3 linked regions of the Homo sapiens genome follow. The protein of the gene in region 3 interacts with the protein of the main gene of each other region in a pairwise test. Each region holds a gene or a part of one and is shown on either strand. Other genes may lie near its edges.

Region 1 (11,844 bases), on a different chromosome or scaffold from region 3:
ATTTGTTGAATGAATTGATTCAACCATAATTTCTTCTTTTGTATTGGTTGCAAAGAAACTTAGGGCTAAATACAGTAACTGTAATAGTCTGTGTTGCTGGTATATGTATTTTCTTTAACAATTCTGATTTTATGTTTTCAATTTCTATTTAAACAATTTCAATTTAAAAAATATGGAAGAAAAATACAAATGTATTTTAATTATAAAACACTCCAAACTCTGAAAACTGGTGTAGGATGTCATAAAATAAAAAACATTTTATTTTCTAGATAATTAAAACCAATATCATCTGACTTCATTTTATAAAATATCTAACAACTTATAAAATTAAGTACATTTTTACTGGAAAAAATATAGCCTTTTTTTTTTTGAAGCATGACCAAACTTTTAGACAGAAAAACAACACAATCAGAAAATATACATATATATACTGGATAAAGAAAAACAAATAGTTGAACTTCATTTTTCTTTTCCATTAGAAGACATGAGGGACACACACACACACATATATACACATATATATGAAAGAAAATGTTGCAAATTTCAAGAGGTGTAAAACATTTGCTATTTAAAAACTTCCCAAAGGACAGTTTAATTTTAGCAATTTAAGACAATGAAAAGCCTGGAAAGCCCTAGCTTTGTGTGTTTGTAAAATTTGTGTTCCCGAATCTTTCTGTGGGTGTAGAGACAGACCTAACTCTAAGCCCAAGTCTTATATTGATGAAGGGAGAATAACATTAAATGGCCTGGTTAGCTCATCTGACAAGTATCCTGTCACTGGGCTTTGAAATGAAGAGATCCAAAGCCCTTTATTCAAAGCTCTGTAATGCCTTGGGTCTCATTAAAGGAGAGAGGGCAGAATAGAGATCCAAATCAAATGCAACCAGAAAGTAATACTGGCAGGGATGATTGAGCAAATTCTTTGGTTTCCTAGTGTTGACTACATTTATGTGCCTTTGAGGATCATGGAATTCACATCTCTGAGCAAGTATGCCACACTCTAGTATACTGCACATATTAGTTTTGTTGAAGGCATTGCTCCCTTCGTTTGCATTTATTGCACGTTTTGGTAATTCACCTCCTGCTGATCCTTGCTGGGATCTCTTTTAACTGATATTAAAAATGAGATACAATTAATTTATTTTAAGATTTAGACTTTCTTTCAAGAAGATCTCCATTTTTATAATCAGAAACATGTGTTCCTGTATTAATAGCTCTTAAAGTAGGCTCAAAGAAAAAACTGAGAGGGATAAATAAGGGTTTTTAATCTATAGTGTTAACTAGATATAAGGCAAAAATGATAGTATGTTAGATCCTTACTTCCCTCAGGTGGGAGAGTCCGTGAATGTGTGTCTAACAAGGGAAGTGGCTGTGACATTAAATGAGCTGTGAGCACACAGCAAAGTTTGAGGGATACGAGTCACACAGTTCCTGTTTTCCCTCCTTGGACAGATTTTAGCATATGAAATAGTAATTAAGAGGACAATGACACATAGACTCTCTATTTGGTTCCTTTTAATTTTTTCCACAGTTTGTGTTCCCAAATTCAGGAAACTGTAAATACTATTGGAAGCTTGGAAATGTTGAGGAACATGACTATTACTTAAATGATTTCTAAAGAGGGTGTATATTGTATTCTAATGAAACCATTAATGAAGACAAATATATCTAAAATTTCTTGAGAATCTTGACGTATGCAATCTATGTTTAACTAGGAATTACAAGCTTCAATTGACATTATCTTTGTTCCTGTCTTATACTTGGATTTCAACAAACATGTATTTTTAAAATTTACTTTTATCTTAAAAGTTTTTCTTTAGAGTTTGCAGGATAAATCTGACACCAAACTAGAAGATCCTGGACTACAATGAGTGACAGAAGAGTTTTCATTTGCATGTATTAAAAATGTATTTTTTTCTTCCTATGCCTAATAAAGCAGTAAGATAGGAAAAAAAAATGCCAATTAAGAACAGTGACACTCAACATTAGAGATAATCTGTTTAAAAAACCAAACCCATATATAAATACTTTTTGGAATAAAAATTCAATTATCAAATCTCTTTGAAATGGGCAAAATGTTAACATGCAATATGAATGACTTTGAGAGATCAGTAGAATCTCTCATGATATTTATTGGAATAACTTTATAAATGCATATATATTTGTATATTGACACTGATCAACTTGAAGAGTTCTTTGTTTCAGGAACAAAATTCTCAGGGAGAGGCTTGATTTTTCAATGAGTACAAAGACGGATGGTTCACTAAAGAAGATATGCATAAATTCTACATTTTTGAAGATTTTTCCAAATGAATTAGTTTGCAAAATAGGAGTAAAGGTATTTTAATTGCAGTTAGTAGCAGTGGCTTATAATACCATCAAAATATAATAATTGTTTATAAAATATATACAATTTAAATTTGTTTTCATTTAAAATTTAAAATATATACAATTAGCCTCAGACTTTTATTTTTCATTATTATCTTTTATTATTTTTGATAATATTTCTGTGGATCAGCATATCACAATGTACATTCTTGGAAACAATACTGCAAAACATGCCACAAAAATGTGTTATCAAACAATTTTGTTAAAAGCTGTGTACTATAAGGAACTATTCATAATTTTATTAGGTATGATTACAGTATTGTAACTTTGTTAAAAAATTGTTGATTTTTTTTCAAGATGCATGCTAAAGTATTTGTGAATGAAATGATAAAATTTTCAGGATTTGCTTCCACATATTATGAAAGTATGGAAAAAGGATAGGGGTGAGGACAGGGCTGGGTTAGCCACGGGTTGGTGTTACTGGGCTTGAATGATGAGTACTTGTGGGTTCAGTAAGCTATAGAACCTACATTTGTGTATTTTACCTTTATTTGAAATTCTCCACAACAAAAAGTAAAATAAATAAATAAAAGATGTATGTCTCTTAAATATTTTATAATGAACATAAGAGCTGTGAGAAGTTCTGGGTAGAAGACCCATTTGTCTGTATGAGCTCTTCCAAACTTACAGATCACTGAACTATTCTTTTCAAGGAACATCTGTAAATTTCTCTCCTGGACGCTTTGGGAATGGCTATACATTGGTAGAACCAATGTTTTTCCATGTATAATTGTCCATGATAATTTCTGTCTTATAGCACATAAAAAATCCATCTACATATTGAAAAACATTAAGATAAAATGTGGAAAATGTTTAAAATATAAATGTTTAAAATATCTTTTTTATTTCCAAATTCTAAGAGATTTCAGATCTCTATATTAACTAATTTTTTAAATTTCATACACATTTATCCTGATGTTAAAGAAAATGAAATTTCAGAAAGAAAGAATAGATGGTAGTATATATTTTAAAAGACAAGAAACAACTCTTTTTGATTGAATATTTACCATAAATCTAGTTATGATTGCTTAATATCTAAATGAAAAGCTCTGCCTAAAAAACTTCACATATCATTATCAACCTATATACTATTTATATATTTTATCCCAAATTTCTATAAAATTTAAGTATCTGTTAAAATTTCAGTTGTATACCCATGAATTATTTCTCACTCTAGAAAAGTTAGATTAGCTAGAGACATTCTTCAAAGTGAAATAATTGTTAAATATGATTTATATTTATATAAAATGCTTTATAATTTTGCATGTCTGAGAAACTACATTTTAGTTTCAAAATAAGTTAAAGAAATTTACTATTAAAAAAACCTATACATACATTTTTAACTTTGCATCTAAATAAAGACAACCTGCATTATTATTTGTAGCTGTCCTTTCTAGCTTTTTAGAGACTAGCAAACTTTTCATTGTTGACTTTTATGAAAATTTAAACAAGAACATTTGCATTTATTATAATATATTGCCAGAAATTGCATTCATTTCCATTGATGCTATTAATTTGATAAATGTTTTGTTATTTGTACTATTTGCACTGTAAAGACAAGCTAATTATATCTTAGTGACATTTTTGACAATTGCTTTAACTCTGGCAAAAACCGTATGTCTTCTTTGCTTCAACAAAAAATTACTCTTGCCTAATGAAAGCTTGAACTAAGCAAGAGAAGGCTAGCACATGTTAGAAGTCTTGCAAGCTTCACTTTGGAATAAGTAGTAAACAACCATTTCCCAGGACTCTCTTTTAATAGAAGAGCTCACATTTTGTAGAAGAAAATATTATGTACCTGCATAATCTGTTCTTGCATAATGCCCATCTTCAGACTTAGTAGTTGTAGTTGTGTTATCTGTGTTAAAAAATTAACAATAAAAATTGATTAACTGCTTCCTAAATATCTAATATCAAACTTATATATTTCCTCCAACAATATCTTCATTGCAATTAAGGAATTTTTACAACTGTAGTTCTAAGCAACCTGCATCATACTAAGACAGATTTACAATGTCAATTTCTGTCTGAGAGCAAATAATAAAATGAAGAGAGCTTTCTAAAGTTTGGGAGAAGAAGAAGATTCACAATTATAACTGAGAAAAATTGGTCAAAGGAGTAACAAAACCTAAGAAAATGCTTGTTTCTGAACAAGAAAGAAAATAGAACATTCTAGTACCTCTTGCTTTTAAAAATGCATTTTAAATATTTGTACTGAATCAATACATAAAAATGAAGTGATTTGCTTTTAGTTTCAAGGATGTCTAATAAATTCTTAGATTCGTTTTAAAAATGTTTTTGAGTTTCTTTTTTCCCTTTGCAAGAAAATTGTCTGCTATCTTGTGAATATTGGCTTCTGTGTTTATGGCATTGTGACAATACAGTTCCATTGTATAGAGACAGATCTGGACGGTTGCTGAGAGCCCCTCAAAATCCTATAATCGACACAAATGCTACAGTAGACTCTACTATCCATTGTAAATAAGCACTGCATTTTGGAAATGGAATAGCTGCCTAATAAGGAGTTTTCTTCACTTTTCATTTTTGCACAAAGACTAAAATCATTCTTTGAAATGAATTTTGGTATGAACATTACCTTGACATCGACCCAAAGACATGACTTCAATTTTCTCCTGTTTCTGACACGATGCTTCTTTGATTTGGCATGCATTATCATAAGATTTCCCATCAGAAGCGCAGAGGGGATTGAAGTTGGTTTGAGAACAGTCAATATTACACACACACCTAAAAAAAGAGAGAAATAAAAACATGTAACATCAATAGTGTTGTTACCACATTATAAATAAAACACAAATGAAAGAATTGCTAAGTTGACAAAATGCAAGTTGGCAAAATTGAATTGTATCCTTCCAGGGAAGTTCCTTCACTTTTCTAACTGAGAAGAAAAGAAACACAGAACTAATGGAAAATAATTCAAACAACTGAGCAATGGATAAAAAATAAAAGGAAAAACTCAAAAATGATCATCAGTTAATTTCTGCCCTGGAACTTTTAAAACATGTACATAAATTTCCATGCTGATATCTGCAGAATATGAATAGGCTGAGGTCATGAAACTCTGCTTTAGAGTTTTCTTAAATTGAATCTTACTCTTCCTTCTTTTCTTGGGATATTTGAATGGTTAAAGCTTGTGGAAAACTGACTCAGAGGACAGTTCAGAGAAAGCAAACAAGTAAATTATTTGGCATGCAATCAGGAGTCGTATTTCTTTGGCATAAATAAGGACGCACATAAAATGTACTAAAAGGACCAATCTTCAATGGTCCTTAACATTTTGGGGGGGCCACAAAACCCTTTGGAAAAATGAAAGCTATAGATCTCTCCCCAGAAATATCCATATTCATATAAACAACCCTTCTGTATAAAATTTCAGGGTTGTCTTGGGCCCCTTTAAGCATATCCTATGAAACCCCTTCCGAGATATACACTACTATTTTTCTACCTCTCATTTTAAATAATAAAATAATAAATACAAGTTGATTGCCACTCATGATGTTAATATTTTTCTATAATCTAAATAAAAATTCAGTGATTTAATGAGAATTAGGTTACCTAAAGAAGAATTAAACATTTTCAAGAAAATTTTATATGATTGTTCCTATATCTTTACACTTCTCTATTTTATTATTCTGAATATTGTGTCTTGTGTGTTTTCTGGTGTATGTGTACAACCATGTTACAGCTTTAGAATATAAACTCATATTTTAAATTTTTATTAATATTTATGTTGTTTTTGTAAATAGATTATATGTTTCTCAAAGTCATGAAGCATACATTTTTACTTCTGTATATTTTACTGAGAGCTAGGCATACAATGGCAAGCAGGTTACTACATGCTAGACTCTCAACATGTATTGCTTTATTTAATCCTCACAACAGCTGTTTTACAGACCAAAGACATTACATAAGGTTAGACACTAGTAAATTGTGGAATAAGGTCCCACTCATAGATTTGTTAAGCTAAAACCCAACCCCCTCTCTCTAATACCACAGACTGTGTTATTAGAATCTCCTGGAGAACTTTTAAGTATACAGATTCATAAGCAGATTTCTGGGCTCCAGTAAATCTAGGGTAGCTTCTAACATTCTATATTCTTAAGTAGTCATCCTGGCACCAGACTCAATTCCTGGGAATCACTGCTTGATCAGTCTGTTGATTGAGAGAGGCTTTGTATACACACCAGTGCATCTCAGAGTGTAGTCCTTAGACCATCTGTGTCAGAATTACCTAGATTGCTGTTTAAAAATGCTGGCAGAAAATGTGCTAATGAACTTACTTATTTATTTATTTATTTTGTAAGAGAATTGCTGTAGGAATGCCTGGTTATTTTTACATTTACCTATTTAGGAACAAATAGCTACAACAGATGGCAACCATCTCTAAACACTTAACTCATTGAGGAGCGGTGTTCCTACCTTAGCTTTGATGTTGCCATGTGATCACAAGCTACTGGAACATGACATTGCTACCTCAGCTGATTCTTGGCATCTGAAAACCTGAGATCAGGAGCTGCCTACATGTTCAAAGAGCTTCTGGTTCTTATAGAGCGGATGTGGATAAGTGACTCTGTAGGCCAAGCCTTAATCATTGTATTAAATAAAAAAGGAGTGAGGAGGTTGACATTTGCATTTTTAAAAAGGTAGTTTCTTTTGCCTTCAAACCAGTTTAGATTCTGACTGTTGTTGTGTTAGACTCTAGGAATTATCTCCTTCAAGGTCTTCTATAAAGTTGTTTGTTAGCAACTGAAAAACAGAAAGGTATGTTCTGTCACTTGTCTACCTAAATGGTAAATTAGATAAGATATTAGGGCTTTGACGGTATATCCAAATTAAGTCCAAAGAAATTTAGAAATGTACACTATATATATATTTTACATTTTTATTAATATTTATGTTTTTGTAAATGTTTTGTAAATAGATTATATATATATACAGTGTACATTTCTAAATGTTTCAGTGAAAAAGTCACATATATATATAGACAGAAAGTAATTGGCAGTTCAGAAACCCATTTGATAGCATGACAAAATGGTGCAAAGGGAATAGAGATGGTGATATAGTTTGTCTGTGTCCCCACCTAAATTTCATCTTGAATTGTAGCTCCCATAATTCCTATGTGTTGTGGGAGCGACCTGGTGGGAGATAATTGAATCATGGGGGCAGGTATTTCCCTTGCTGTTCTCATGATAGTGAATAAGTCTCATGAGATCTGATGGTTTTATAAAGGGAAGTTTCCCTGCACAAGCTCTCTTCTCTTGTCTGCTGCCACACCTTTCACCTTCTGCCATGATTGTGAGGCCTCCCTACCCACGTGGAACTGTGAGTCCATTAAACCTCTTTCTTTTGTAAATTGCCCAGTCTTGGGTATGTCTTTATCAGTAGGGTGAAAACAGACTAATACAGACAGAAAGATAAAATTTGATTGAATTGGACTGGTTAGAATCAGTGTTTCACTGAAAAATTCACTTAAGCTTTAACACCAAATTGAACAATTGTGTGGGATATTTTACAAGATTCTCCAATTGGTGTATTTATTTATTTATTTATTTATTATTTTTCAGTTTGACTAATCTGATTTTGGTCCCACAGCTTTTCTGCTGCTGACATCCTTCCCCCTTTCCTTTCCTAGCATCGCTTGCTCAAGGCCTCCTTTTAAGATTTGTTTCCTCTCAAAATTCCTGGCTCTTGTTGCCTCAAATAAAGCCTTTCATGGAATGGCTAAGAAACAGGTATAGATGGTTGATGTTTTTATTCTCAGCCCAAGAGGAGGACATAGATTCATTCCTTGAGGTGAAAGTTTCCCTGGGATATAAGCTTCAGGAATGCATGGATTATATTGGTCTTTTTCTCAATTGCATATCCTCATCATTAACTTCCATCTTTGCTCCCTACTCTATATACTTGCATATATTAAATAAATGCAAGAGTACATTTTAAAAATACTTCCTGTGACTCTCAGCAATCACTGGAAATTGGAAATCTATGGAGAATATTTTTTTTTTTTTTGTGAATAAGTGGAAGAAACTTCAAAGATTTGCTAAAATGGCTTGAAAACAATAAGCTGGCCGGGCGTGGTGTCTCATGCCTGTAATCCCAGCACCCTGGGAGGCCAAGGTGGGCGGATCACCTGAGTTCAGCAGTTGGAGACCAGCCTGGCCGACACGGTGAAAGGCTGACTCTACTAAAAATACAAAAAGTAGTCAGATGTGCTGTTGGGCACCTGTAATCCCAGCTACTCAGGAGGCTGAGGCAGGAGAATCACTTGAACGGGGGAGGCGGAGGTTGCGGTGAGCTGAGATCCCACCACTACACTCCAGCCTGGGCAACAGAGTGGGACTCTGTTTCAAAAACAAAACAAAACAAAACACAAAAACGATGAAGCTTGGGGAAAAGGAAATGTTGTGACTGGATTACCAAGGACCTACCATTTCTATGTTTCCAAAAGACCAATAAACTCTGATTACATAATCATTATTTACTATATTCCATGTATATATGTCTATTAAGCTTATTCAGTCAGAAAAACATGCAGGATTCCAAGACCATGGTCTGAAACTCTAAGTCCATCTTGATCTCTATTTGCAGTGATTGAATTATCTTTGCAATCCCCAACCCGCCCAATATCTTGCACACATGAAACTTTCAATAACTACATGTTGGATAGCTAAATGAAATGAATGAATACACTAACAATTTTACATTCTTAAAGAAAGGTTGCTATTCTAAAAGTTACTATTACTATGCCCATCTTACAGATAAGAAAATTGAGACTTGGAGAAGTCTCACAGCTTGAAAATCGAAGAGCCTAAATTCAAATTTAGGCAGTCTGATGTCAGAGCCTGCCCTGTTCTACATACTGAAAGTACAAAGAAAGACAGACCCAAACTCCTATCACAGACCCAAATTCCTATCACTCTCTGATTAAAGGAATCCTTTGAGTAAATAGGATTTGAAAACCAAGGCTATGTCTACTCTTGGAATATGTCATGATTTTATGAATTTAAATCATATTGACTCTTGGTCCTTGTCTTCTCAAACAAGCAATCCAGACTTTTTGTGCATCACTGGGATATATCAGTGAATGTTAGTTTTAAGACATTGCAAATTAAAACCTGGTTTTAGAATTAGTAACTAATTTTATGGGCATTAGATTAACCTGACTATCTAAAGCATCAGTTGCTCAAAATATTTTATCCTTAAATAAAATGCTATATAAAGATCCACATGAAAACTAATATTTACACGCAAATACACATACACACAAACACACAAATGTATAGCTCAATGAACTCTACTGAAATTACAAAATTAGAGAGTTTTAGCATTAATTTTTTTCCAGGTGTCTGCTTCAAAACTTTCAAAGAGGAATTTGGGGAAGTTTACATTCATGGGGTAGAGGTGGTTTTGTGTGTTTATATGAGTGAAAAAATTTGTGTGTGTGTGTGGGGGGGGGGCTCACACTCACCTCCATGGTGCATTTACTGCATTGGTAATGCACCTGTTTACTTGTTTATACCTCTACTTTTCTGCAACCTTCTCAAGGGCAAGGTGTTTTACTTACCTTTGACATCCTGGTACCTAGTACAGTGCATTACAAACATCTTCAATAAATGGTTGTTGAATAAATTACTGAGAATGGCAGATGGTGTTGAAAGAGTTGAAAATATTCATTGTGCTATATATTAACACCTAGGAGAGATAACTTTGTGCTACTTGGCAGATGTGGGGTCTCCAAAGGAGAGGGGGTTCCTGAAGAACTAAGGCTCACTGTCCTCCTTTTATTTGTGTTTCCACAGACAAAGGAAACAGGAAACAAACAGTTAGTAATCTTGATGGCATCAAAGTCCAACTGGGGCAAGAAAATGTTTTCACCAGGCAGGCTACTACTTCTCATTTGTGGTATTTGGGTACAGTTTCAGGCACCAATATAATTTGAACATGATAGCAACTTGTCAGTTTATTGCTACATTAAACCACTGAAAAACATAAGGCTCTGATAAAAAGGTGACAGAAGAGCCAGGTTCAGTGGTGTATGCCTGTAGTCCCAGCCACTCAGGAGGCTGAGGCAGAAAGATCACTTGAGGTCAGGAATTTGAGAGCAACCTGGGCAAAATAGTGAGACCCCGTCTCTAAATAAATAATTAAAAATACGTTTTGAAGATTAAAAAAGAAAAAGAAAAAAGGTAGCAATTATCATATAATGTAATGGTGAAACTGCAGGTCACTTTACCAACTTATGTAAATTAATCAAGGGTTTTTCTTTCTGCAGAAATGAAAAGCACACGTTTTTGAAAACAGAAACTATCCCTTCACTGCTTTTGGCAAATAATTGCATTATTATTCATTCTGAGAGGAGTAACTAGTTAATTATAGCATGTCACAAGTATTTTATGTGAGCCAAAGATTTGTAAGGCTGAGGACTGCACGAATGCCTTTAAGGTTTTTTGTGTTTTCTTTTCTTTTCTTCTTCGTTTTTTCAACCTATCTCAGTCTTTTGACATTTTGACACTGCGATTACATAGATCTCTTTTCTTCTAGGCTACAAAGAAAAAGAATCAGCCTTACTCGAAAATAATAATTTCAGGGGTCTGTATGTGGTAATACTACCCTCTGAAAATCCTTCAAAGAAAATTAACATTGACTGAAAACCTTAGCTCTCTGAATTATAAGATAGAAGAGAAATAGGAAATAATTTTTAAAGACCACTTGATGGAGTAAGGAACTTAAATTATAGCAGTAAAAGGTAGCATTTGAGACAACTCACATACATTTGTAACTATCTCATCAATATTTTCGGGGGGTTTGACATTAATTTAATTCCCTGCCTCACTTGAAATGGCTCTTCCAAGGATGATCTGCAATGAGTTAAATAAGCTTCTCTGTGTATTTAGAAGTGCCTTGTCATCTGCCAGAGTGTGAGAATGCAGAACCTGGCAGCTAGCAAATTACATATTCATGTGTCTGGTTTGTGGCTGCCCTCTAATTTCACTAGATTTTGTTTCATCTATTAAACATGGCTGTCACTTATTCCTCTCCCAAGGTCTTTGACTTGGTGTCCATTCCGTATTTTGACCATACAATATTCCTAGTTAGTTTCAAAGCACCCAACTATACCGCAGTGAGGCTGGCTTTCTGGTTGTTTCGGACCTTAACTGTGGTTTTTTTGTTTCTCTTGAGGGTGTCTGTCTCTGGGGCCATTACGCAGACCCTCTCTGGCCTGGCCAGTAAATAAGGTCAGAGCTGCTGTCTGTGATCCCTGTCAGATCTGTAATGGATGAACTGCATTATATTAATAACAGTAAAAACAGTGTGTACCTTTCATTCAAGATGCTTATGATACTTTAAGCCCATTTACTCATTAACTCTCACATCACTCCTTTTGATGGAACTTGATTATAAGTATTTTATCTGTAAGGAAACTGCAGTGCAGGAATG
Region 2 (8,196 bases), on a different chromosome or scaffold from region 3:
CCCAAAGACAGCATGTCTGGAAATACAAACACAATACCAGAAATAAATATGATGGCTATTTTTTGGTCTGTTCTTGACCATGGAAGCTGGGTCATCCCTGGAGAATCAGGCGAGGCAAATTTGTAGGGCCACTGAGGGTCAGTCAATCTGCAGATTTACTTTATGCTGATCAGAATTTAAATGGCCCTCTTGGCTGGGTGTTGTGGCTCATGCCTGTAATCCCAGCACTATGGGAGGCTGAGCTGGGGGGATTGCTTGAGGCCAGGAGTTCGAGATCAGTCTGAGTAACATAGAGAGACCCTGTCTCTACTTAGAAAAATTAAAAAATTAGCTGGGCACGATGGCACATGCCTGCGGTCCCAGCTGTTTGGGAGGCTGATGTAGGAGGATCTCTTGAGTCTGGGAGGTCAAGACTGCAGTAAGCTATGATCGCGCCACTGCACCCTAGCGTGGGCAACAGAGTGAGAACCTCTCTCTATAAATAAATCAATAGCTACCTCCCTGAGCAAACATAAAACTTTTTTGGTTTAGTGTCTCTCCCACTGCAGGAATAAACACAATCCCACGTCACAGGTCTAGGCTTTTCCCATCAGGCCAGATGTGTTGGCATTTTGATAATATCCTGTGCTTGCTCTAACATCTAATCTTTGACTCTTACACTTGATGGCAAAATCCTCCAGCTCCCCTAGATGCTCACTGAGGTGGGGGCTGCTCCGTGAGCACTAACTGCTTGGGGATTGCAGGCCTCGTGGCCTTCCTGTATTTTGCCCTGCTGTGAAAACGCAGGCAATATGGCCGGGTGCGGTGGCTCACTCCTGTAATCCCAGCACTTTGGGAGGCTGAGGTAGGAGGACTGCCTGAGCACAGGAGTTTGAGACCAGCCTGTGCAACATGGTGAAACTCCATCTCTACTAAAAATACAAAAATTATCAGGTGTGGTGGCGCGCACCTGTAGTCCCAGTTACTTGGGAGGCTGAGGTGGGAGAATGGCGTGAACCCGGGAGGCGGAGGTTGCAGTGAGCCGAGATCGCGCCACTGCACTCCAGCCTGGGCGACAGAGCGAGACTCCGTCTAAAAAAAAAAAAAGAAAGAAAATGCAGGCAATTACTTCTGCACTCTCAAGTCCCTGTGAGGTGGGACTTGCTCTCTCTCCAAAAGGCCTTGTGGATACTCCCAACCCCACTGGACAGTTACAGCGGTGCAATGGGGAGCTCTGGGAGAATCTGTCAGATTTTCACCAATTGGACTTTTCATTAATAGGTGGGCTTGGTTTCGTGTTGTCACTTTTTTTCTAAATCTTCTCATTACCATGCTAGAAACTCACTTTATTTTTTGGCCTTTCTTATTAGTTTTGTTTTACTTCCTTTTTTTTTTTTTTTTTTTTTTTTTTTTTTTGAGACAGGGTCTCACTCTGTTGCCCAGGCTGGAATGCAGTGGTGTGATCACGGCTCACTGCAGCCGCAACCTCCTGGGCTCAAGTGATCCTCCCACCTCAGCCTCCCAAGTAGCTGGGACTACAGGTGTGCACCACCACACTCAGGTAATTTTCTTTATTTTTTGTAGAGATGGGGTCTCACTGTGTTGCCCAGGCTGGTCTCAAATTCCTGACCTAAAGCGATCTGGCTGCCTTGGCCTCCTAAAGTGTTGGGATTATAGGCATAAGCTTCCATGTCCCGTCTGTTTCACTGTTTGTTTGTTTGTTTTGTTTTGTTTTGTTTTGAGATGGAGTCTTGCTCTGTTGCCCAGGCTGGAGTGCAGTGGCACAATCTCAGTTCACTGCAGCCTCCACCTCCCAGGTTCAAGCAATTCTCCTGCCTCAGCCTCCTGAGTAGCTGGGATTACAGGTGCATGCCACCACGCCCCCCAGCTAATTTTTGCATTTTTAGTAGAGATGGGGTTTCACCATGTTGGGCAGGCTGGTCTCGAACTACTGACCTCAAGTGATCCGCCTGCCTCGGCCTCCCAAATGCTAGGATTACAGGTGTGAGCCACTGCGCCCGGCCTGTTTCACTCTTCTTAAAGAAAATTTTCAATTTTTTTTTTTTTTTTGCTAAATCTTGCTCACCTTAGGCTTTTTCTCCTGCTGTGGCCATGTGTGTTTACACTTGCGGAGCTCCTCCTGTGTTCTTCCTCTGCCTCCCTCCCCCTGGGTGTGATGGTCTAGGGTGAGCTGCTCAGCTCCATCAGTAAATGAAGGTTATGAGTTCTGCTGCTTGGACGGGCTGGGTTCCGGTGACAGGCTTCAGGGACTCGAGTGATGGGTGGCTCCGACGGGTCCTACTTATCTTCGGGCTGGGAGCTGCAGGCATAAAGCTGCCCCTATGACTGCCAGAGCAGGGAGACACAGCAGAGTTCTGGGCTCCCTCCGAGGCTCCCCAACATCAGCTTGCTTCCGCTTCCGTGTCCTCAGACAGGTGAGTCCAGGGCCTACCCCCCTGGACCTACTGAACTAGACCCTGAGTGCGAGGCCCTGGAGCTGCACTTCGACAGCTTCCTAGGTGGTTCCGATAGGGCAGCAGAGAAAGACAAGCAACAGTTTCACCGAGACTGAGCTGCTTGAGGTTCTAGTTCCCACTATGGGCATTTGTTGCTGGAGCCTTTCTCCCTCTGTTTTAGGAAAGTCGACTGGAAGCTCAGTTGGGGTTAGATAAACTCCAGAAGAGATCCCTCCCCATTGGCGGATCAAAGTGGTTTGTGGGCACAATGCATCCCAGGTGCAGGCAATAAGAGGAGATGCTGTCTGCAGAGAATTTAGAAACAGAATAAAGCTGAGTGAGAGAATAAGAGTCAGTCAGCTTTCTCCTTTTGTTTTGTTTTCTTTTGTCTTGTTTTCTTTTATTTTTAGAGATGGAGTTTTGCTATTTTGGGCAGGTTCGTCTTGAACATCTGGCCTCAAGCGATCCTCCCACCTTGGCCTCCCAAAATCTTGGGATTACAGGCATGCACCATCGCGCCCAGCTGAGAGTTGGTCAGCTTTTAATCATCACCATGCCCCAGCAATTCTACCCACCCTGGTCAGGGCTAGAATCTCCCTCCCTGGGGACCAATCCTCTGCCCCTCTATCCCTCCCCACACCACTGCCCCTTCCCAACCACGAGGGAGTCTGATGAACAACTCATTTTTGTTGGTTTCTTTTCAGTGTTTTATTTTTCAAAATATACAATTTAAGTTTTTATTTCACAACCGTAGTTTTGTATATTTATTCCAAAATCTTTAAATAGCTCCGCAGCAAACAGTACAAATCACAAGGTCCGTCAAACTGCTTCTCTTTAGCCTTTACACTTGGCGAGTTTTTTAAGTTTCAAGTAGTAATGGTTTGTGGGTAAGAAAGGAACCAAAAACAGGAGGAAACAACATTTTTTACATAAGCTCAACATGTAGGATTAGAAAGGGCCGTCTGACCAGCTCCTTGGTCTGGGACCAGACTAAGAACATGTATCTGGTTTATAAATAAGACCGTCCTGGGAGCAGTGAGGGTTTTGGTTACGAGGAGGAAGGGGCAGGAACCTCATCTGCGGAGGCTGGGAGGCAGGGGGAGGTGAGGCACTGAGAGGTGGCTCCTTCTGGGAGCGCCCGAGTAGGGGCCTGAGCGGGGTGGAGGCCAAGAATGGCCAGGGACGGGGTGGGGCTGCCACTGGTGGAGAAGCCTCCTCAGCCTCCCTTGGGGAGAAGGGCTGTGATTCTGGAGGCAGGGGAGGGACGGCAAGAAAAGCTGCCAGGTCCTAAAGCAAGCAGCTGGGACTCCTGCCAGCCACCCTGGGCCCAACGACGCAGGCAGCTGGCAGGGCCAGAGGGGCTGCCCCAGGGTCTGGGGTGGACTGTGGGAGGCATCACGCTGTCTCTTCTTGCGAGAGCTCTTTGTCCACCTCAGAGCCACCAAAGCCTCCCCAGAAGGGACAGCAGGGAGGACAGGGACCACAGATCCCACAGACCCACTTCTGACTGTGAAAGCGAGCTGTGCCGTGCAGGCAGCTCCTAGGCAGCCCATGAGGCTAAGGCACAAGGGTGACACAGGTGGCCACGAGGGCTCAGTTTTCTTCATTTCCCCTTGCGGCTGCTACCTGTGGCCACGGCCTGAAGCAGTCCTGTGGGCTGAGCTCTAGGCAGGGACGCTCCAGGAAGAAGTGGGTCACCAAGGGCCACCTGGCCACCAAGTGGATGTGACCCTCCTACCAGGGGTCAGGAGGGCGGTCCTGCCTCAGGGCCCCCTCAGCACCTTCCACTAGGCTGCAGGGCCGGACACAGCCCATCCTGCCTGGCCAAGCCAACCTTCTTAATGGGGTCTGAATGGCGGGTGGGGGTCGGGAAGGGGCCAGGGCCGGGCTGAGGGCAGGACGGAGGGGGTGGGAGTTGTCACTGCGTCTTCAGGTGGGGTTTCTCTGGAGTGAGGGTGTGGAAACAGTAATCCCACAATTTAGTGCTGATACCAAATCCTAGAGAGGGAGACAAACGGGGAGAAGATGAGGCATTGAAGGAGCAGGCGTGCGCTGGCTTGGGAAGGGTGCCAGGGTAGGGATAAGAGGTGGAGACAATGTCAATATCTGTCCCCTTGGCCTTCCCAACTCCCGAGGCCATTCTGGCAGAAGTCAAGGGTGGGGAACCTGTGTCTTTTATTGTCCCCAGCATGAAGCTGGAATAAACCCTAATTCCTTATCTGGCCTTCGTTTCTAGGCTACGTGGCCCCCTCCCACCCCCCACCTCCATCTCCTTCCCCTTCCTTGGGGCCCAAGTTCATTCCTGCCTCAGGGCTTTGCACCAGTCGCTCTTGGGACGCCAGATGCTGATTTCTCTTCATTAGGGTCTTAGCTCTAATGGCACCTCTGCAATGACACCTGGACCATTTAATCTCTTTGCTGTCCAACTAGCCCTTAGCCACACATGGCTACTGAGCACTAGAAATGTGGCTAGAGCTCCAGAGAAACTGAATTTCTAACTTCATTTAATTCTGATGAATTAACATGTCAATGTAAAAACTGATGCTTGATTGAGTTACTGGAATTTTTTTTTTTTTTTTTTTGAGATGGAGTTTCGTTCTTGTTGCTCAGGCTGGAGTGCACTGGTGTGATCTTGGCTCACTGCAAGCTCCGCCTCCTGGGTCCAAGAGATTCTCCTTCCTCAGCCTCCTGAGTAGCTGGGATTACAGGCGCGCACCACCATATCCAGCTAATTTTTTGTGTTTTTAGTAGAGAGGGGGTTTCAACATGTTGGCCAGGCTGGTCTTGAACTCCTGACCTCAGGTGATCTGCCCGTCTCGGCCTCCTCAAGTGTGTTACCGGAAAATGTTTAAGCATGTTTGGAGCAACTTACCTATGTGAACTACTGTTTGCAAATTTTATAAAATCTAGATATGGATCTAGTATTTCTAATGAAACTTTAGTATCTGAATTGAGATGTGCTGTAAGTACAAAATACACCTTAGATTTCAAAGACTTAGTATAAGAGTTGCTAATTATTTTTTTTTAAAGAGACTTTACAAAAAGGGTCTCACTCTGTCACCCAGGCTGGGGTGCAGTGGCATGATCATAGCTCATTGCTGCCTCAAACTCCTGGGCTCAAATGATCCTCTTGCCTCAGCCTTCTAGGTAGCTGAGATTACAGGTGCATATCACCACACATGGATAATTAAAACTTTTTTATGTAGAGACAAGGTCTTGCTATGTTTCCCAGACTGGTCTGGAACTCCTGGCTTCAAGCAATCCCCTGCCTCCGCCTCCTATAGTGCTGGGATTATAGGCCTGAGCCACTGCGCTCAGCCATTAATGATTTTTTAATGTTGATTACATGTTGAAATAATAATTTGCTTATGTTAAGTAAATGTTATTAAAATTCTTTTCATCTGTTTATTTTCATGTCTTAGTGTGGCCACTAGAAAATTTAAAATCACATATGTGGCCCACATAATATGTCAGTGGAAATCGCTGGACCCTCCCCCACCTATGTGATATTCCATCACCTTGCTTTACTTTCTTCTTCTTCTTCTTTTTTTTTTTTTTTTTATAGACAGAGCCTTGCTCTGTTGCCCAGGCTGGAGTGCAGTGGTGCAATCTTAGCTCACTGTAGCTTCTGCCTCCTGGATTCAAGCTATTCTCATGCCTCAGCCTCCCAAGTAGCTGAGATTATAGGTGGGCACAACCACACCCCGCTAATTTTTGTATTTCTAGTGGAGACAGGTTTCACCATGTTGGCCAGGCTGGTCCCAAACTCCTGACCTCAAGTGATCTACCTGCCTCGGCTTCCCAATCCCCTCGGCTGGGATTACAGGTGTGAGCCACCACACCCAGCCCCTTTATTTTCTTTATGGCATTTATCACAGTTTGAAATCTTTGCCATTTATTGATGTCCTTGCCTGTCTCTGCACAGCTGTCTGCACCAGGGAAGAGAGTAGAGGGAACCCTCTGTATATGCCCCGTACATGGAACAGTGCCTTGCCGTTCCCAGGAGCTCGATGGTAGTTGGCAAATAAATCAATGAACACACATAGGGGGCTGGGAAGCACAGGCCCATCCTCACCTGACTTCTGATGTGCAAAGTGGTGCTTGACGTGGTGGGCCTTCAGGCTGTACAGGTAGGAGCCCTTGTGCGGCGAGCCAAAGTGCAGGTAGTAATGGGTCATGTCATAGAGGACGTAGCCCAGGAGGCCCCCCGCAAACACAGTGCCCCCTACTGCCTCGGGCAGGATGAGCTGCATGCACAAGTAGAAGACGCCGATCACCAGGGAGGCTGGCACAGGGGGGAAGACCAGGCGGGAGCCGTCGAAGGGTGCCTGCAGATGGAGAGGCTTGGGCATCAGGAGGCAGCCAGGGGCCCCGGCAGCTGGCCAAACCCTGGCCACTCCCTGCAGAGGACAGGGGCACAGCGGCCCAGACATTCCACTGCGTAGGCTTGGCACCTTTGGTGGCTTTGGGGAGGGCGGGCCACCACGTCTGGAAGATCTGGAGAGACTGTCTTACTTCCCATTTGTGAGCCAGGAAGGGACCTGGCAGATTGCAAAGGAACATGGGATGGGCGGGATGGGCAGGATGGGCAGGATGGGTGGGGTGTGCTGGCGGCTCAGAGCCCATCTTATAGAGGCCACTGTGACTCTGGAATTTGTCAGGTGCTAGACAGGTATCCCATCCCTAAATGCCGTGCCCCTGGCTAGAGGGGCATTCTGGAGACAGGGCACCTAGACTGAGGCCTGATGTTGTCTGGGAGAGCAAGGCACTGAGGGCAACTGAGGTTAATGCAGCCTCTGTGGCGGGATGACCCGGAAGTGTCACTAGAGGTGTCCTCCCCACCCCCATGTCCAAACAGGAGGCCTTTTTTGTTCCAAGGGGGTGTCGCCACAGTGAACCAGAGAACACCGCTTCACCGTGGCCCTCGAGCTTCAGAAGCCAAGGGCCTGGCATAGAGGTGAGATCTTAGCTATGGCTTGGTGAGGAGTCTGAGAAGAGAATCCTGCAGCCTCTCTGGGCTGGAGGAGAGAGAGAGAAAGCAGGTGACAGTGACACAATGAGATGCTGGCGTGGGCCTCCCTCCCTTCAGACCAGGAACAACAGGACCAGTGATGTGCTGGAAAACCAGCTCTCAGGAAAAGGAGGAAGGGAGAGAGCTGGGGAATGAGGGAGGGGGAAATAAAGGGAGGGAGGGAGAGCCCTGATTGGTAGTGTTTGCCAATTCCTGCAGTGTGAAAACTGCCCTGGCGCTTTCAAGCGCTGAGGTGGCGTCACTGGAACAGAAACAGGAAAGGATGTGCATGGGTGCTCTTGTGAGCTGGTATGGGCCAGATCCGGGTCACAGCTGGATCAGGATCCTTAGATGGATAGGTCTGGGGATCTGAGAACACGTTCCTGATTGGAGCCCACGTGGCTACAGGCCATACAGTCTCCTCGGGTCCTCATGGTGTGGCAGCAGGGGACTGGACAGACTGGGGTGGAAGTGTCTCAAAAGAGGGAGCCTGAGACAGCCCCTGGGGCCCCAGAATGGCCTGAGCAGGTTCCCAGAAGGTTCTGGTGTCCCCTGTGGATGGGAAAGATAGCGGACAGGGCAGTGGATCTGAAAAGGCTTCACAAACAGGGCAAGGGACACAGAAGCAGATGCAGTGAGCTCTGCAGAGCAGAGGCCAGGTGAGGCTGGAGGACACAGGCCAGGCCTGGGCTGCGCTACCTCTGAGAGCATACCTGAGAGACAGGTTGGCCCAGGACTGGGCACCCACCC
Region 3 (11,844 bases):
ACTTGAAGTAGAAGCCAAGACAATAGCTGTTTCTTCCTCACCGGTCTCCTCCAAGGGCCCTATCTTGTTACATTTCCCTTCTACCTGATTCTGCTTTGTTCTCTACTGCTTTCACATTTTCTGCTAATTTAATCAGATTTCTTTCATCTTTTATCAACCTCTCCATTCTCAATCCATCCTATATATTACTAAAAGAGATCATTGTGTGTCTAAGTTGCTTAGCACAGGGCCCGATCCACACACTCAATACACATCAATTACCACTGTTTTGTTACCAGAATAATCTTCCTAAAGCACAATTCTAACTGGTCTTGCCAGTTCTCTGATCAAAAGCTTCTAATAGTTTCCACTGATGACAAGAGGCTGTATTACAGCAGAATGGAGGTAGCAGAGTGAAGTGGAATGAGTGCCACCTTTTCAGTCAGTTACTGGTTAAGATTATGGCTGTGCCTCCCACTATTTCAGTGGAGGTTAAATTAATCTTTCTAGGGCTCATTTTCATCATCTGTAAAATGGGCATGATATCTACTTTCCAGAGTTTACAAGAATTACAGATTAAATAATATCATATATACAAAGCACCTAGCACATATAGTAGGTATTTAACAAATTCTGATTTTCCCTCCCCACAAACTGAATTCCTAAACAACTGAATTCCATAATCTAACCCAAAAGTGCTCTTCACACTACTTTCCCATTACATACCACTCATTTAGTCAAACTAGGGTTCTCACCATGCTTTGAACCTGACTTTCACCTTCTTGCTTCTGAGCCTATGCTTATCCTCCAGTGGCTTTGCTTTCCTCTCCAACTCCACATATCTAAATCCAGCCAATCCTCCAAGGCCCAGGCCAGATACTGCCCCCATGCCCCCGAAGCATTTTCTCATGCTATTCCCCATGCCTGTAAAACACACTGCTTGAGCCTCTTTAATTGCACTTACCACACTTGGCCTTAATCAAGAGTTTTATTAATGTGTCTTATAGCCTGTACTTAAATGAACCGGGAAACAAAAACAGGTAACATTTTCCACTAAACACCATCTCTATCCAATTTTATTTGGTGTATATCATATCTGAGAACTAGAAAAGCAGCCTCTAACATCTAAAAGTTGGCCTGGTATTATCAACTAGGCATTAATACTGCTATGAGCTGGCTTGGTACTCACAGATAAGTTGTGGTGTTCTCCTGTTACACATAAGCTATTTCAGAACACCAACATTAGACAAGGCCATTCTGTGATCATGACGGATCAAGACAAAAAACAAGACCACTCAGTAATCTGTCTGAACACAGACAAAACATGAACACTGTCCAAGCCACTAAATACCTAATATCCCCCAGTGCTGAGTAATGTGAACGATGGGGCTGCTTTATCAATTACAGCTTTAGCCTTTCTCTAGTTGGCCCTCCCTTTAGATAAACTGTTAAGATACCAGTCCTAGAATTTGCCTTACTTCCTGAAAGCATCTAATTCAGAGTAAAGTACCACATCCTTAAACCATCCTCCAGATCACCTAACACAAACCCAAATCCTATAATGACTTTTTCTAACAGTGCCTTATTGAGATGCCCCACAATTCCCCATGGTGTGCATTCTCCCTTGCTGCAATGAGTAATACACTCAACTTGTTCAACTACAGGTGTGTTCCTAGTGGTCTCCGGCTGGAAGACAAACTAAGAACTTCTTGAATAAAGGCCTAGTGTTTTATTTGTTTGGGTTCCCAGGGCAGGCTCTGGATCTTGCCTACTACAATCTTTGCTGACCTGATTTGGATGAATTATACTGGGAGTGTTAGCCTTTATTAGAATCTCAAGATCCTGCCCAGTCATTTGTAGGGCTAAAAATAGTTTTTTACTTCATTATCCTGCCAGTTTTCAATTTTATAGTTTCTAGAATAGAAACTGGCAATTAGGATGACTGATCAAGCAAGGTATTCCATACCCACTTACCTGTACGTTTCTAAACTTGAAAAAATGCCTAATTTACACGCATTCATGGGCTCTCAAATTGTCTGTTGTTTTCTGTTCATTTCCATAATACATGAACAGGAAAATGACCCTCTGAAATCAAAATGATTTCCTAATCTCTGTCCTTCAAACATTCCTTCAGAGTAGATCTCTGATGCTTCATTAGGGAAAATAAATGGTAACCAACCAAAATAATATATTTGTCTTCAGGCACTTACATACCAACACATAAGAAGCTAGTTTAAGATAACACAGAACTATGTATGTATATGTATGTCATACATGTATATGTGTATATGTTTGTATGTGTATATTTATATACACATATACATGTATCTGTATATTTTCACATCTCAGAGAGATTAAGACTCAGTGGGACACAACTTACTTAGGGAGAACATCGTGACAAAGGGTCTGTGCTATTCCACAGGAACAGGGCCACTGGAGAGGGGCTACTAAGGAACCCTATTTATAAGCATTCAGGCAGGGTCAGCAGGAAAGATGCCCAGATACAGTGTTACTGTGGGAACACCAAAGGTTCCCAGCCAAGTAGAAGTAGTAGATAGGACTCTCTTGAAGCCACCTCCAACACAGAGTGGCACACTGTCATCTTGGAGTACTTCAACTACCCTGCAACCTATTCAAACTCTCATTCAGCTGACAATGGAACAACTGACAAGTTCTTGACCAAGTGTGCTGACATTTTTATGTTCCACAGGTACACAGGGAGAGCAGAAGAACTGCTACTCTGATCAAAGAAGAAGCTCTGATGAAATGAAAGGAGAACCTCAGGAGAATGAGATCTTAGTGTTTCTGACAACAAAGTAGGAATCGTGTAGCACAAACTCTAGGAAGCCAGAGTTAAGAAGTTTTTTGTTTGTTTTTTGTTTTATTTTGAGATGGAGTCTCTGTCACCCAGGCTGCATTTCAGTGGCACGATCTCAGCTCACTGCAACCTCCGCCTCCTGGGTTCAAGCAATTCTCTGCCTCAGCCTCCCGAATAGCTGGGATTACAGGCATCTGCCACCATGCCCAGAGAATTTTTGTATTTTTAGTAGAGACGGCGTTTCACCATGTTGGCCAGGCTGGTCTTGAAATCCTGACCTTGTGATCCACCCGCCTTGGCCTCCCAAAGTGCTGGGATTACAGGCGTGAGCCACCGCGCTCGGCCACAGAGCCTCCTTTCTAAGTAGGAAAAGAGACAATAAACAAGATAATGATAAATACTAAGGAGAAAAAATAAGACAGGGAGAAGGGGTAGGACCGTGTTGGAAGTTAAGATTTTAGCTGGAATGGCCAGAGAAGGCATCAGGAAATGCAGTTTGAGAGAAAACATGAAGACGAAGGGAAAGGCACATGGATATCCAAAAGAAGAGCATTTCAAACAAGGGAAACAGCAAATGCAAAGGCACTGAAGTGGGAACATGCTTGGCATATTCAAGGAACAGTGAGGAGGAAGCCAGTGTGGCCACAACAAAGTGAGACAGATAGAAAAGTAGAAGCAAATGGGGAAGAGAATTACATAGGGCCTTTTGGGTCATGTATAGACTATCTTTTCATCTAAGCCAGGAAGCCACTGTAGAGTTTTGAGGAGGGGAGAGATGTGAGTTGACTTAAGCTTCAACATAATACTATCTGGCAGCTATATTGAGAATAGACTGAAGTGGGGAAGGAGGAAGGAGGCAAACCAGGGTGACAGAGTAAGATGGAATAGAGCAACCAAATAACCAACTGGTTGAATGACCCTAAACAAAACGTTTCCATGAATACAGTGGTGGGACTCTAAAAGCAGTTTTAAATGACTAAGACATTTAAAAAAATAATTTGACCTATCAAGAAAACATGCTGAGGCTGGGCATGGTGGCTCATGTCTGTAACTCCAGCACTCTGGGAGGCCAAGGCAGGCAGATCATCTGAGGTCAAGGGTTCGATACCAGCCTGGCCAACATGGTGAAACTCCGTCTCTACTAAAAATACAAAAAAAATTAGCCAGGCGTGGTGGTGGATGCCTGTAATCCCAGCTTCTCAGGAGGATGAGGCAGGACAATTGCTTGAACTTGGGAGGCAGAGGTTGCAGTGAACTCAGATCCTGCCACTACACTCCAGCCTGAGAAAAAACAAACAAAAAGAGAAAACATGCTGATCATAATCAAAGGTAAAATTGTAAAAAAAGAAAGAAAAAAAGAAAAATTATAACATGGTGGGAAAAATTTGAACACCAACTAGATATTTAATGACATCAAGGAAGTATTGACTTTTTAGGTGTGACAATGGTATTGTGGCTACATTTTAATAAGAATCTGTTTTTAGAGATGCATACTGAAGCATTTAAGGATGAAAAATGATCCAATGTCTAGGATTTGCTTCAAAATAATCCAGTGAATGGGGGGAAAAGTGGGTGGGGATACCCATGACACAAGACTGACCATGTATTGATGGCTGCTGAAGCAGGATGATATGGATTCATTTTACTACTCTCTCAACTTTTGCTTATGTTTGAAAATGTCTTTAACAAAAAGTTTTTTAAAAATCAAGAATGGCACACAGCTAAGAAATGGTAAGCAGATACATTGAATGAAACATTGAATGCTCTGAAAAAATTTCAAGAGCTAGAATTCTTGGCCAAATTTAAACAAATAAAATGCAACAAGGAAAACTACAAATTCCTACATTTCATTCCGAAACATCAAGTGAACAGTAGAAAATGAACAAAACCTAGATGAGCAGCTCCTATTAAAAAGAAGAAAAAAAGGCTCAGAATTCTAATATACAGCAAAGTCAGCAAGGAAAATGCTAAAAACTAGAGCAATCCCCAGAAAGCATTAAGTATAGAAGAAGAAGAGTGCAGGGAAACAACAGATTGCTCTTTCATGAACTGTCTTAGATATGCTGTTATTTGCAGTTCTAAGAGCCTCTTCTGAGAGGGCTGTGTTCAAACACTTGCACCTAGGTCATACCAGGAACGGATGAGGGAGCTAGGGATGTTAACACAGGAAAGAAGACTGAAGAAAGGGACATAATACTACTTTTCCAATTCCTGGATTAATCATCTTACACCTGTAAACCAAAAAGTATCTGGGACAGGCCTCAATCAATTTAGAAGTTTATTTTGCCAACGTTAAGGACACGCCCAGGAGAGAGGTCTGTGCCTTTCTCCAAAGATGATTTTGAGGGCTTCAATATTTCAAGGGGAAAAGTGAGCTGGAGGGGAAAGAAGGGTATGGTAATCTATATGTTGCAAGAGAAAAGGAGCAGGTAGAGGAATAGTCAATTATGTATTCATCTGGTGCTCAGTAAATCGGCACTTCACGTAAGATACGGTGAACATAGAGTAGCTACCTGTAGAGATATTTAATTTTTTATCTGTAGCTACCTGCTTAGGAACAAAAGGAAAGGCAGTTTCTTGCACGACTCAGCTTTCAGCTTAATTTTTTCCTTTTGGCATAGTGAACTGGGGTCCCAAGTTTTTATTTTCTTTTCACACACCTTTAATCTACTTTTCCTCCATTCCTATTTTGGCAAAGGAAATCAACATCTATCCCTTCACCTAAACCTGAGAATAATCCAGATGTCTCCCTCTCCCTCACTTTCCCATTCTATTTTAAAATGTCTCTTAAAATTATTCTCTTCCCTCCAATCTATCCATTGATAACCTCTCTTGCTCTAATATCCATATTTTCCTTTGGGAACTCCTCTCAACTCCAGAGTGGATTCATCAGTATATTCTTTCTACCCACAGCACCACAAGTTAACTTAATTCAAGCCATTAACGTGAACGGATATGTTTGCTGGAACTTCTGGGAAAGAATCTTGGGAGTGAGGCTGGAAGGTGAGAGTGATGGAGGACTTAAAAGAAAAGAGGCCTGGAGCTGTGCCCAGCAAAGTGCTGTAATCCCAGCACGTTAGGAGGCTGAGGTGGGACAATGACTTGAGGCCAGGAGTTCCAGGCCAGCTCTACACACACACGTATATAAATGAGACACTCCCACTTTCTCCGGGCAATGGAATGTGAGGAGGTAATGTCCGAAACTGTTGCTATAAATGAGACACTCACTTTCTCCGGGCAATGGAATGTGAGGAGGTAATGTCCGAAACTGTTGCTATAAATGAGACACTCACTTTCTCCGGGCAATGGAATGTGAGGAGGTAATGTCCGAAACTGTTGCTATAAATGAGACACTCACTTTCTCCGGGCAATGGAATGTGAGGAGGTAATGTCCGAAACTGTTGCAACCATTGCTACCACCCTGAGAGGGCAGCCAGAGCACAGAACCAACTTGAGAACGAACCCAGAGTGAAAAGGACACAGAAAATAAGAGCTAGAGCCCCAGTGTGACAACTGTGAGTCTCTGGTTCAAACCATACTGCAAGACATTTCTAACACAGGGTCTTTTCATTTACACAAGTCAATAAATTCCCTGTCTTAGTCAAGCTGACTTTTCTGTCACTTGTCACAAGCACCCTAACTGGTGAACCCAATGACAATGACTTGGTGATGCTCATGATGTCTCAACTGGATGACTACAACAATCTTCTCCCTGAAGAAATCCTCACAACGCAGTGTCTACACTGCTGCCAGGGTGTCCTTTCTAAAACCAGGTTAAATGTTTCTCTTCTCCTTACACACTCAATGATGCCTCATCTGCCTTTAGAATAAAACCCAATCTCCTTAAGAATGACAGAAAAAAACCTTCACAATTTGGCCCGTGCCAACTTCTCTGGTGTCTTCTCTCACAACTCTGAGGATACTTCAAGGCTCCATGCTTCTTCTTTTTTTTTTTTTTTTTTTTTTTTTTCTTTTTTTGAGACAGAGTCTCACTCTGTCGCCCAGGCTGGAATGCAGTGGTGGGATCTCAGCTCACTGCAACCTCCAACTCCCAGGTTCAAGCAATTCTCCTGCTTCAGCCTCCCAAGTAGCTGGAATTACAGGCGTGCACCATCAGACTGGGCTAATTTTTATATTTTTAGTAGAGACGGGGTTTCTCCGTGTTGGCCAGGCTGGTCTCGAACTCCTGGCCTCAAGCAATCTGCCTGCCTTGGGCTCCCCAAGTGCTGGGATTATAGACATGAGCCACCGTGCCTGGCCCTAAGCCTCTGTGTTTCTTTGCTCAGTATTTCTTCTACCTAGAATGCCCTTCTTTTTCATCTGGATTATTTAAACACACACACACACACACACACACACACACACATACACACACACACACACCCCCCAAAACACTTTAAGAACTGCCTCCTCAATTTAGCCAAGGAAGGTAAAGCTGGGTTAACATCTAAATTTCAATTAATGTAATATGCCACATCAGTAAAGGACAAAACTCACATAATCATCTCATAATCATCTCAACAGACATAGAAAAAAAGTATTTGATAAAATTCAATACCCCTTCATAATGAAAAACACTCAGCAAACTAAGAATACAAGGGAACTTCCTCAACCTGAAAACAGGCATCTACGAAATGCCCCCAGATAACATTACATATGCTAGTAAAGCATACTTCTTAAGATCAAGGACAAGAAAGGATGTTTGTTCTTACCACTTCTATTCAACATTGCACTAAAGGTTCCAGCTAGGGCAGTTAGGCCAAAAAAAGTAAAAATAAAAATAAAAGGCATTCAGATTAAAAAAAAAAGTAAAACTATCTCTATATGCAGACAAGTTCAGCGAGGTGACAAGATACAGTATCAATATACAAAAACTAATTGTCTATACACTAAGGAACAATCTGAAAACAAAATTTATAACAACATCAAAAAGAATAAAATACTTATGAATATATTTAACAAAATAAGACTTTCACACTAAAAACTACAATCTCCTTTAAAATAAATTAAAGACCTAGATAAATAAAAAAGAAATCCTCTGTTCATAGATTGAAAGATTTAATATTGGTAAGATGGCAGTACTCTCCAAATTGCTTCAGTTCACTCTATCAAAATCCCAACTGGCATTTTTTTTTTTTTTTTTGGCAGAAACCAAAGTGATGATCCAAAATTCCTATGGAAATGCTAGGTCACAGGACCCAAAATAGCAAAACAATCTTGAAAAAGAAGAACAAAGTTTGAGGACACATTTCACGATTTCATAACTTAGAAAACTACAATAATTAAGACAGCATGGTACTGGCTAAGGATAAGTATACAGATTAATGTAATATAATTGAGAGTCCAGAAACAAACTCTTACATTTAGAGTCAACTGATTTGACATGGGTGCCAGAACAATTTAATGAGAAAAGAAGAGTCTTTTCAACAAATGGTGCTGGGGCAACTATATATCCACATGAAGTTGGACTCCTACCTTACCCATATACACAAATTAATTCAAAGGGATCAAAGACTTAACTGCAGGAGCAAAAACTATAAAACTTGAAAACATAGGCATAAATCTTCATGACCTTGGATTTGGCAATTTGTCTCAGATATGACACCAAAAGCAGGAGAAACAAAAGAAAAAAGTAGATAAATTGGACTTTGTCAGAGAAAATGTAAAACTTTTCTTATTCAAAGGGCACCATCAAGAACGTGAAGGCAACCACTGAATGGAAGAAAATATTTGCAAATCATATATCTGATAATAGATTTGTACCTAGAATATACAAAGAACTCTTACAACTCAACAATAAAGACAAGACGCCAAGTGTGGTGGCTTACACCTGTAATACCAGTGCTTCAGGAGGCCAAGGTGGGAGGATCACTTGAGGCCAGAAGTTCAAGACCAGCCTGGGAAATATAGTGAGAGCCTCATTTCTGCCAAAAAATTTAAAAATTAGCCAGCTATGGTGGCACACACCTGTAGTCCTAGTTACCTGGGAGGGTAAGGTGGGAGAATCACTTGAGCCCAGGAGTTTGGGGCTACAGTGAGCAATGATGGCACCACTGTATTCCAGCCTGTGCACCAGAGTGAGACCCTGTCTCTCTCAAAAAAAAAAAAAAAAAAAAAAAAAAGACAAGTAATCTGACTTTTAAAGAGGGTTAAAAGGACCTGAATAGACATTTCTCCAAAACAAGATATACAAATAGACAAAGAGTGAATAAACACACAAAAAATGCTCAATGTCATTAGTCATCAGGGAAATGCAAATAAAATCACAATGAGATACCATTTCATTCCTACTAGGATGGCTATCATCAAGAAGACAGATAACAAACAAGTATTGACAAGAAACCAGAAGCCCTCTTACACTGCTGGTGGTCATGTAAAATGGTACAGCTGCTTTGGAAAATGGTCTGGCAGTTCCTCAAAAGGTTAAACATGTAATAACCATACAACCTAGAAATTCCACGCTTAGTTCCAGCCACACTGGAATGCTCACATTTTCCAAATGTATACACTCAAGAGAAATGAAAACATTAAGTCTACACAAAAATTTGTACACAGATATCAGTAGCAACATTATTCATAATAGCTAAAAGGCAAAAATTCAATGTCCATCAATTGATTAATGAATAAATGAAATGTGGTATATCCACACAATGAAATATTATTCAGCCATAAAAAAAGTACTGCTACATGCTACAACATGGATGAACCTTGAAAACATTATGCTAGTTAAAAGACGTCAGTCACAAAAGATCAGATATTATATGATTTCATTTATACCAAATGTCCAGAACAGGCAAATCTATAGAGACATAAAGTAGATGAGTGGTTGCCTAGGGCTGGAGGTGGGCTGGGGGATTTGTGGAGTAATAGCTAAAAAGTACAGGGTTTCTTTGGGGGCTGAAGAAATATTCTAAAATTGGTTGTAGTGATGGTTGTACAACTCTGAATATGCTGAAACCCAATAAATTGTACACTTTAAGTGGGTGAATTGTATGATATATAAATTAGATCTCAAGAAAGCTGTTATCAAAAAAAAAAAAGACTTCCCTCCTCTATGTTCTATGAAACCTGTTTTTTGGGGTTTTTTTTTTGTTTTGTTTTGTTTTTTTTTTTGGCAGAGTCTCACTGTGTTGCCCAGGCTGCAGTGCAGTTACACAATCACACCTCACTGTAGCCTTGACCTCCAAACTTCAAACGATCCTCCCACCTCAGCCTACAGAGTAGCTGGGGCTACAGGTGCACACCACCATGCCCAGCTAATTGAAAAAAAACAAACTTATTTTGTAGAGATGGGGGTCTTGTTATGTGGCCCAAGCTGGTCTCGAACTCCCAGGCTCAAGCAATCCTTCCACCACAGCCTTTCAAAATGCTGGGATTACAGGCATGAGCTGTCACACCTGGTTTATGAAACCCTTCTTAAGTCCCAATAACACTGACCATTGCATACATGTCTCCATTGTTCCCTGCGCAGACTTGAGTAACTGTGACTGACACTCTTGCATTTATCTGCTAACATGTCTGTTTTGCATTTATCTGTTGACATGTCTACTTTCCTTTACTAAACTGTGGCCGCCTCAAAGCATGGAGTTCGCTCATTTTTTCTTGGAATACATAGTGTCTATACACTATGTGCACAGTATGTGATATGGTACATCATAAATATTTGTTAAAAGACTATCTTAAAGGCTTTCATGTGGAAAGGGAACTGTGCTTGTTTCATGCACATCAATGGGCAAAAATGGAAGACATAACAACATGTATTTTTAAGAATTTTCAAATACTCAGGGTTATTCCTTTCTTCAAAGCAGGGATTTCTGGGTTCTGAGAATTCTCTGAATTGATACTGAAATTCTGAGTACAATAAGAGTATGTACCTTTTTCTAGAGAGAACATACAGTTTTAGGCTGAGTGCAGTTGCTCAAGCCTGTAATCCCAGCACTTTGGAAGGCTGAGGCAGAAGGATCACTTGAACCCACGAGTTCGACACCAGCCTGGACAATACAATGAGACCCCCATCTCAACCAAAAACAAAAAAAATTTTTTTTAATTAGCCAGGCATGGTGGCATGTGCCTGTAGTCCCAGTTACTTGGGAGGCTGAGGTGGGAGGATCAGTTGAGCCCTAGAAGTAGAGGCTGCAGTGAGCTGTGATCATGACTCTGCACTCCAGCCTGGGTGACAGAGTGAGACCCAGGGAAAGGGAAAGAGAAAGGGAAAGGGGGCCAGGAAGAGAGGAAAGGAGGGAGGGAGGGACAGAGGGAGGAAGGAGAGAGAAAGAAAGAAAATACATAGCTTTTATAAGATTCTCAATGGTGTATGTAACCCCAAAATGGTTAAGATTTTTTGCTGCAAGTTTCAGTTACTGGAATGTACCATTCAAGGTAAGTTTTTTCCTAGGTTATACTACTTCAGTAGCTTCTCCTTGTCAAAAACAGAATTTACAGTATTGGTAGCTTAATAATCTTAAAGTATTTATTGACTGCCCATTATATGCCAGGTACTGAAGAAACAGTGGTAAACAAGACAAAGTCCCTACCCTTGCAAACTTACATTCTAGAAGGTGAAGACAAAAAAACAAACAAGTAAACACTTAAGAATATTCCATATCATATAGTGATGCCTATCATGAAGAATATAAAACATGATAAAATAGAGAATGATGGGAGAAAAGAGTTATTTTAGTTAGTGTCATCAGGGGAAGTCTCTCTGAGGAGGTTTCATTTGAGCAGAAATTTGAATGATGAGAAGGGCACTGAGGGAAAAGCACAGCACTTCAGGAATAAAGAGAACTGAAGGTACAAAGATCCTAACATGAGAACACTGAATACCAACACTTGAGTTCTCAAGGGAACAACCCATGTCTAATCTCCACTCTACATTTTCTACAACGTTCAGAAGAGTGTCTCCCACTCACAGTCAATAGTACTTGTTCAAGATAATTCACCATAATGGAAAGTAAAAAAAAAAAAAAAAAAGTTTTCGAAGAATCTTCACTGTTCAGGATCATCATGAATTGACTCTTCTTCAAAGTAGACAATATCATTAGACA

Evidence for each region.
Region 1: the proteins of RIC3 (region 3) and TMEFF2 interact in binary tests that used the Homo sapiens proteins (3 or more experiments, as listed by UniProt).
Region 2: the proteins of RIC3 (region 3) and FA2H interact in binary tests that used the Homo sapiens proteins (3 or more experiments, as listed by UniProt).

Annotation. Positions count from the first base shown.
Region 1 is NC_000002.12:191,994,076-192,005,919, forward strand, and holds part of TMEFF2 (tomoregulin-2 isoform 1 precursor), read right to left. Parts: intron 5,134-11,844; coding exon 4,985-5,133; intron 4,247-4,984; coding exon 4,187-4,246; intron 1-4,186. UniProt on the Homo sapiens protein: May be a survival factor for hippocampal and mesencephalic neurons. The shedded form up-regulates cancer cell proliferation, probably by promoting ERK1/2 phosphorylation.
Region 2 is NC_000016.10:74,709,837-74,718,032, forward strand, and holds the end of FA2H (fatty acid 2-hydroxylase), read right to left. Parts: exon of another isoform or gene 6,764-8,196; coding exon 6,511-6,763; intron 4,434-6,510; coding exon 4,354-4,433; 3' UTR 3,133-4,353; downstream 1-3,132. UniProt on the Homo sapiens protein: Catalyzes the hydroxylation of free fatty acids at the C-2 position to produce 2-hydroxy fatty acids, which are building blocks of sphingolipids and glycosphingolipids common in neural tissue and epidermis.
Region 3 is NC_000011.10:8,155,889-8,167,732, forward strand, and holds part of RIC3 (protein RIC-3 isoform a precursor), read right to left. Parts: intron 1-11,844. UniProt on the Homo sapiens protein: Molecular chaperone which facilitates proper subunit assembly and surface trafficking of alpha-7 (CHRNA7) and alpha-8 (CHRNA8) nicotinic acetylcholine receptors.